2 linked regions of the Homo sapiens genome follow. The protein of the gene in region 1 interacts with the protein of each later gene in a pairwise test. Each region holds a gene or a part of one and is shown on either strand. Other genes may lie near its edges.

The links. The genes of interacting proteins can lie anywhere in the genome.
Region 2: the proteins of RABGEF1 (region 1) and ANKRD29 interact in binary tests that used the Homo sapiens proteins (3 or more experiments, as listed by UniProt).

What each region holds. Positions count from the first base shown.
Region 1 is NC_000007.14:66,743,609-66,747,357, reverse strand, and holds part of RABGEF1 (rab5 GDP/GTP exchange factor), read right to left. Parts: intron 1-3,749. UniProt on the Homo sapiens protein: Rab effector protein acting as linker between gamma-adaptin, RAB4A or RAB5A. Involved in endocytic membrane fusion and membrane trafficking of recycling endosomes. Stimulates nucleotide exchange on RAB5A. Can act as a ubiquitin ligase.
Region 2 is NC_000018.10:23,661,007-23,664,755, forward strand, and holds the start of ANKRD29 (ankyrin repeat domain-containing protein 29), read right to left. Parts: upstream 1,906-3,749; 5' UTR 1,725-1,905; coding exon 1,704-1,724; intron 1-1,703.

The DNA.
Region 1 (3,749 bases):
GCAGAGAATTTAGAGCCCTCAAAACTCTTGTTACATTCCTGCTTCAGAGATTTCAGCAATCTGCTCACTGTTACTGGGGGAAAATTAAAAAGCTTAATACTCTCTCAGTGTGTAATATTTTACGCATTCATGAACACATACTTATTCTAACTTCTGACTTTTAACCACATTTAATTAATTGATCATAATAATGGTATTTGGCCCTCTTAATGACCATTGCCAAGAGAGCTATGCTACCAGAAACAAATTAAAATGTTCCACTAGGGCCGGGCACGGTAGCTCACACCTGTAATCCCAGCACTTTGGGAGGCCAAGGCAGGTGGATCACCTGAGGTCAGAAATTCGAGACCAGCCTGGCCAACATGGTGAAACCCCGTCTCTACTAAAAATAAAAAAATTAGCTCAGCATGGTGGCGCGTGCCTGTTAACACCAGCTACTTGGGAAGCTGAGGCAGGAGAATCACTTGAACCCAGGAGGCAGAGGTTGTAGTAAGCCAAGATCGCACTATTGCACTCCAGCCTGGGCAACAAGGCTGAAACTCAGTCTCACTCCAGCAAAAAAAAAAATTAGCCGGACGTGGTGGCAGGAGCCCATATTCCCAGCTACTCAGGTGGCTGAGGCACAAGAATCGCTTGAACCGGGGAGGTGGAAGTTGCAGTGAGTAGAGATCGTGCCACCACACTCCAGCCTGGGTGACAGAGCAAGACTCTGTTCTCAAAAAAAAAAAAAAAAAAAAAAGGTTATATTATAAATAAAAATTGCACTTCCTGCCGGGCACGGTGGCTCACGCCTGTAATCGCAGCACTTTGGGAGGCCGAGGCGGGTGGATCACGAGGTCAGGAGTTCGAGATCAGCCTGGCCAATATGGTGAAACCCCGTCTCTACTAAAAATACAAAAAAAATTAGCTGGGTATGGTGGTTAACTACTCGGGAGGCTGAGGCAGAAGAATCCTTGAACCCAGGAAGCAGAGGTTGCAGTGAGCCAAGATCGCGCCACTGCACTCCAGCCTGGGCAACAGAGCAAGACTCCGTCTCAAAAAGAAAAAAAGAAAAGTAAAAAAAAAAAATCACACTTCCTATCCCACTGACAGTAACTTCATTGAAAACAGGAATTTCACAGGAAACTTCAAAACAGCACCATAAAAGTATAATGTTTTCCTAAAGCATTTTAGGAGCTTTATCCAAACATCAAAGAGATAAACATAAGTTAAATAATATTAAGTGGGATAACTGTTATTTCACATGTTTACATATTGTAACAATAGTCCAGATCATTTAAACTCACTTCAGCCATGTGAAACAACACACATGATGTTTCTACAGTGCTCTATGAAAGAAGTGTACATTTAATAAGATTTTCAAGATGTTTGGCCTGTACTATGAAACTTCTTTTTATAGAGACAGGGTATCACTCTGTCACTCAGGCTGTAGTGCAGTGGCTTGATCACAGCTCACTGCAGCCTGGAACTCCTAGGCTCAAGCGATTCTCCCACTTTGGCCTCCCAAAGCACTGGTATTATAGGCATGAGCCACTGCACCAGCCTGAAACTCTTGGTTTTAGTGTGATCACTTTTTTTTTTTTTTTTTTGAGATAGAGTCTCACTCTGTTGCCCAAGCTGGAGTGCAGTGGCACAATCTCGGCTCATTGCAATTTCCGCCTCCCGGGATCAAGAGATTCTTGTGCCTCAGACTCCCGAGTAGCTGAGATCACAGGCGCACATCACCATGCCTGGCTAAGTTTTTTGCATTTTAGTAGAGACGGAGTTTTGCCATCTTGATCCAGGCTGGTCTCAAACTCCTGGCCTTAAGTGATCTGCCCACCTCAGCCTCCCAAAGTGTTGGGATTACAGGTGTGAGCCACCGCACCCAGCCTATGGTGTGATAACTTTACTGATGGGCTAAGAAGCCACTCACTTGGTACCATTTCTATTCTGAGTCACAGGTGTTAGGTTTACACAGGTATTTCCTACATTTGAGGGATAGGTCATCTCTGCTAGAGATGTTTCCTCTGCAGCCAATAAAAACCCACATGCCAGAAATTAAGCTCACACAGTCAAGACTGAAATTCTATGTCTCTAGCCAAAGACTCACATAAGTAAACAGAATTTTAGTTCTATATGTAGACATCACAATGAGTAAGTACTGATATCATTTTTTTTTTTTTTGAGATGGAGTCTCGCTCTGTCGCTCAGGCTGGAGTGCAGTGGCACAATCTCGGCTCACTGCAAGCTCCGCCTCCCGGGTTCACGCCATTCTCCTGCCTCAGCCTCCTGAGTAACTGAGACTACAGGCGCCTGCAACCATGCCCGGCTAATTTTTTGTATTTTTATTAGAGATGGGGTTTTACCATGTTAGCCAGGATGGTCTGGATCTCGTGACCTCATGATCCACCCGCCTCAGCTTCCCAAAGTGCTGGGATTACAGGCGTGAGCCACCGTGTGCGGCTGATAACATTTTTTTCACTGAAAACCAGCAACAAAAAATCAAAGAAATCAATGAGTTATTCTTATCAAATCAGTTAAGTACTCATTAAACACTTGTGTGCTCAATTGGGGTTGAGAAAGCAAAGAGAGAAATGAATGCAGAATTCCTGTTTACAAATTAGCCAGGTCAGACATCCTTATAGAAAGAAACAACTAGGAAATGAGTATACATTCACGTCAAGCATCTTTTTTTTTTTTTTTTTTTTGAGACGGAGTCTGGCTCTGTCGCCCAGGCTGGAGTGCAGTGGCGCCATCTCGGCTCACTGCAAGTTCCACCTCCCAGGTTCACGCCATTCTCCTGCCTCAGCCTCCCGAGTAGCTGGGACTACAGGCGCCTGCCACCATGCCCAGCTAATTTTTTGTATTTTTAGTAGAGACAGGGTTTCACCGTGTTAGCCAGGATGGTCTTGATCTCCTGACCTCGTGATCCGCCTGCCTCAGCCTCCCAAAGTACTGGGATTACAGGCGTGAGCCACTGCGCCCGGCTATCTTTTTTTTTTTTTTGTAGAGATGCAGTCTTGCTATTTTGCCCAGGCTGGTCTCCAACCCCTGACCTCAAGCAATCCTCCCACTTTGGCCTCCCAAAGTGCGAGGATTACAGGCGTGAGCCACCATTTCAAACATCTAATAAGCAGAAAAAATTAAAATACAAGATAGCAGTAATTAGCTGGGCGTGGTGGCGCGCGCCTATCTATGGTCAGTCCCAGCTACTCAGAAGGCTGAGGCACACAAATCGCTTGAATCCAGGAGGCAGAGGTTGCAGTGGCCAAGATCATGCCACTGCACTCCAGCCCAGTCACAGATCAAGACTCCGTCTTAAAAAAAAAAAAAAGAAAAGAAAAGAAAAGAAAAAAGCAAATAATCAAGCACTACACTGAAAACATTTATCCTTATCAGCTACATAGCAGCCTGTGTGTAAGAGTTACATAAAATTCCATTTTAGGGCCGGGTGCAGTGGCTCATGTTTGTAATCCCAACACTTTGGGAGGCCGAGGCTAGAGAATCACTTGAGGCCAGGGGTTGGAGAGCACCCTGGGAAACATACAAGGATTCCATCTCTACAAAAAAATTTAGCCCAAGTGTGGTGGCTCACACCTGTAATCCCAGCACTTTGGAATGCCGAGGAGGGCGGATCACGAGGTCAGGAGATTGAGACCATCCTGGCTGACACAGTGAAACCACATCTCTACTAAAAATAGAAAAAATTAGCCAGGCATGGTGGCGGGCATCTGTAGTCCCAGCTATTCAGGAGGCTGAGGCAGGAG
Region 2 (3,749 bases), on another chromosome or scaffold:
TTGATTTCCCTGTGGCATTAATAAACATCAAGGTCCTCTTCATCTTTGTTGAAAGATTAGAGATGCTTGGTGTAAGTGACAGCACATGCTTCTGAGTTTTCTCATTCGTCTCTGGCTGCTCTTTCTCAAATCTTCTTCAAGATTTTGTCCTCAGTCCTCTTATTTTCCACCTTTATATGGTTCCACTGGGCAATCATGTTCATTCCCATGGGTGCCTACTTAACACTGCTGACTCCTAAATCTCATCTCTAGCTGCTGCCCAGACTTGCCTCCTGGGATCGAGGAGAGTATATCTGTCTAATCAACATCTCTGCTTGGATTCCCATCTATCCTCAAAATTTATCCCAAACCAAACGTTTTATCTTTATCTCTCTTGCCTTCCCTACTGAATTATGCCGATTTAAAACTTTTAAAGTCGGCCGGGCGTAGTGGCTCACGCCTTTAACCCCAGCACTTTGGGAGGCCAAGGAGGGTGGATCACCTGAGGTCAGGAGTTCGAGACCAGCCTCGCCAACATGGCAGAACCCCGTCTCTACTAAAAATACGAAAAAATTAGCTGGGCATGGTGGCGCACGCCTGTAATCCCAGCTACTCTGGAGGGTAAGGAAGGAGAAATAGCTTGAACCCGGGAGGCGGAAGTTGCAGTGAGCTGAGATCACACCATTGCACTCCAGCCTGGGCAACAAGAGCAAAACTCCGTCTCAGGAAAAAAAACTTTAAAGTCATTCACATTCGTCTGCTTCGTTCCATTCTCACCACCTATGCACTGGTCCAGTACCATTTCTTAAAAAGATGACAACATCTTCCAGCTCCAACCCTCTTCTCCAAACCTAGCCAGAGATCTTTGCAACATGCACATCTCGCCATGTCACTCCTCTGCTTACATGAGCTATTGTCGGCAACGGGATTACAGTGGCTTAGGAGTCAGACACACTTGGGTTTCAGTCTTAACACCATAACTTATTGGCTGCAAAACCGTGGGTGAGTTAATTTCTCTATATCTTAGTTTTCTCATTTGAAAAAAAAAAAAAAAAGAGCCACGAAGAGCACCTCCCACAGGTCTCCCCCAGGGTTGAGACCATACACACCATGTCCTTGGTTCAGAGTCAGGCACATTTGAACTGTTTAATACATTTTAACTGCTATTTTTATTAAACCCTTTCAATCGAGGCAAATCAACCTCTTTCATCCTAAAATGTGGGGATTAGATGGAATGACTTTAATCAACTCTTTTGAGACAAGACACCTTTGGACCCTGAAGCCTCCCTGGGTGCTGGCCACCCCTCCGGGGAGGAGGCATCCGTGGGTGCAGCTGGTACTCCTGCATGAGGACCCAGAGGGTCAGGGTCGGGGACTCCTTCTGCTGCAGGACAGCGCTGACCCCAGGCTTCTTACCCGCCCCCGACCTGTTACCCGGCGACAGTCCCCGCCGCCCCGTCGCCGGGCACAGACTCAGCCGATCCACAGCCATGAGTGCGAAGCCTCTCAGGCAGGGCAGGCAGGCAAACCGCAAACCCACAGGGCGCACCCAGCCCCGCCGCTTCCTCCCGGGCCTCGCCCGCAGCTGGAGGAGAGAGGAAGGAGGAGGCGGCGGGCAGCGGGCAGCGCCCACCCCATCCCACCCCATCCCACCCCACCCGACCCCGCGGGCCCGGCCGCCCGAGCCCGGCCCCAGCCCTGACCCCGGAGTCCCGGTCGCTCACCTTGAAGGACATCCTGCACATGTCCGCGGCCGCCCGAGCGGGAGCCGGCGCGCTTTGGGCCCGGGGCGCCTTGTCCTCCCCGGCCCTTCACTCTCCCGGGGCTCTCGGCGTTCCGCAGAGGGGCGGCCTCCGACGCCGCGCGCTCCCGCCGCCCGGCCCGGCAGCAGCCGCCGCACACAGGGCCGGGCCGAAGGGGCGGCGCGGGGGCGCGCGCGCGCGCACACTACACATGGGGTGTCGCGTGGACGCGCTCCAGGACCTGCCACACACGCGCGTGCACAAACACCCCAAACTCCGCACGCACTGTGCACTTTCCACACACGTCCACACTTCCACACTCACTCGTCCACACACACACTCCAAACTCCACACACATTGTGCATACGCTCCACATTCCACACACACAGAGGTTCCACACACATACTTTCCACACTCACGCCCACTCACCCGCATGTACTCACACACAAACTCCATACATATCCTCCCAAATAGACTGGTCTGCCCCAGAGGACTCCCAACCTTCATTACAGCACAAATATTATAATGATGTAAAAATGAAGCTTGAGGAAAAAATTCATCCAATAGCTATTTTCGTTATAATTTCTTTCTCGGTTTCCTGGGAAACTTTTTTCTCCTGGGGAAAATATCTAGGAAACAAACCTTTTGATTGCACAAACAATAAGTGGTCTTTTCCTCTTTGAAGGGCAAAGGCCAATTTTGGAATAGACTCATACCCCTCCTCCTCCTCCGCGTTATTAATCCAGCAGTTCCCTCCTCCTCTGGGTCTGATGCTGCAGCCCTGGAGTATTGCAGTATGTGTGTCCACTCCTGCTGCCTGCCCAGGATTGGTTTGGGCGAAGTAAAACTGGGAGTTTTAAGTATAAACGGCAACAACAGCTCTTTGAGAGCATTTTAGAAAAGTGAAAGTAAAAAAGTAGCCCAGGCATAGTGGCTCACGCCTATAATCCCAACTCTTTGGGAGGCCAAAGGCGGGCAGATCACTTGAGTCCAGGAGTTCGAGATCAGACTGGCCAACATGGCAAAACTCTATCTCTACTAAAAATACAAAAATTAGCCAGGCGTGGTGGTGCGCACCTGTAGTCCCAGCTACTCGGGAGGCTGAGGTGGGAGGATCGCTTGAACCTGGGAGGTTGAGGCTGCAGTGAGCCAAGATTCGGTCACTGCACTCCAGCCTGGGCAACAGAGCAAGACTCTGCCTCAAAAATAAAAATAAAAACAAAACAAAAAAATAGTATAAAAATGGAGGTCTTACCCCCTCAAACTATAAGAATCCACTCATTCATTCTCCCCCTCCTTCCCTCTTCTCAATTAAATTTGTAACGAATATTTAATTTAAAAGGTAGAAAACAATTACAAATAAAAGTTAATGATAAAAATTAAAATGTTTAACCTTCATGGATAAATTGTATTACTTTGTGCTTAAAACAACTTTAAATTAAAAACATTCTGAACTTTTATAGAAAATTCCAATTTTAAAAATAAGGACTCTAAACATTTTCCTTGCCTTGAGTGCCTATAAATGACACAGTTTTTAAGTTGCCACACAACGTTATTATATAAAAATCAAGCATCAGAGGTTTTGCTTTAATAGTTTTTTGTTTGTTTGTTTGTTTTTTCTTCTCAGATGGAGTTTCGCTCTTTTGCCCAGGCTGAAGTGAAGTGGCATGATCCTGGCTCACTGCAACCTCCACCCCCCGGGTTCAAGCAATTCTCCTGCCTCAGCCTCTCGAGTAGCTGGTATTATAGGCTCCTGTCACCGTGCCCAGCTAATTTTTGTATTTTTAGTAGAGACAGGGTTTCGCCATGTTGGCCAGGCTGGTCTCGAACTACTGACCTCAGGTGATCCACCTGGTTCGGCCTCCCAAGGTGCTAGGATTACAAACGTGAGCCACCGCGCCTGGTCTGCTTTAATAGTTTTGATAAATAAAAGGGAGAAAGGAAAGAACTAATATTTTGAGTGTTTTCTAGGTACAAGGTGCTTTCCTTATAAACATTTTATGGGGTGAGTATTAACCCATTCCACGG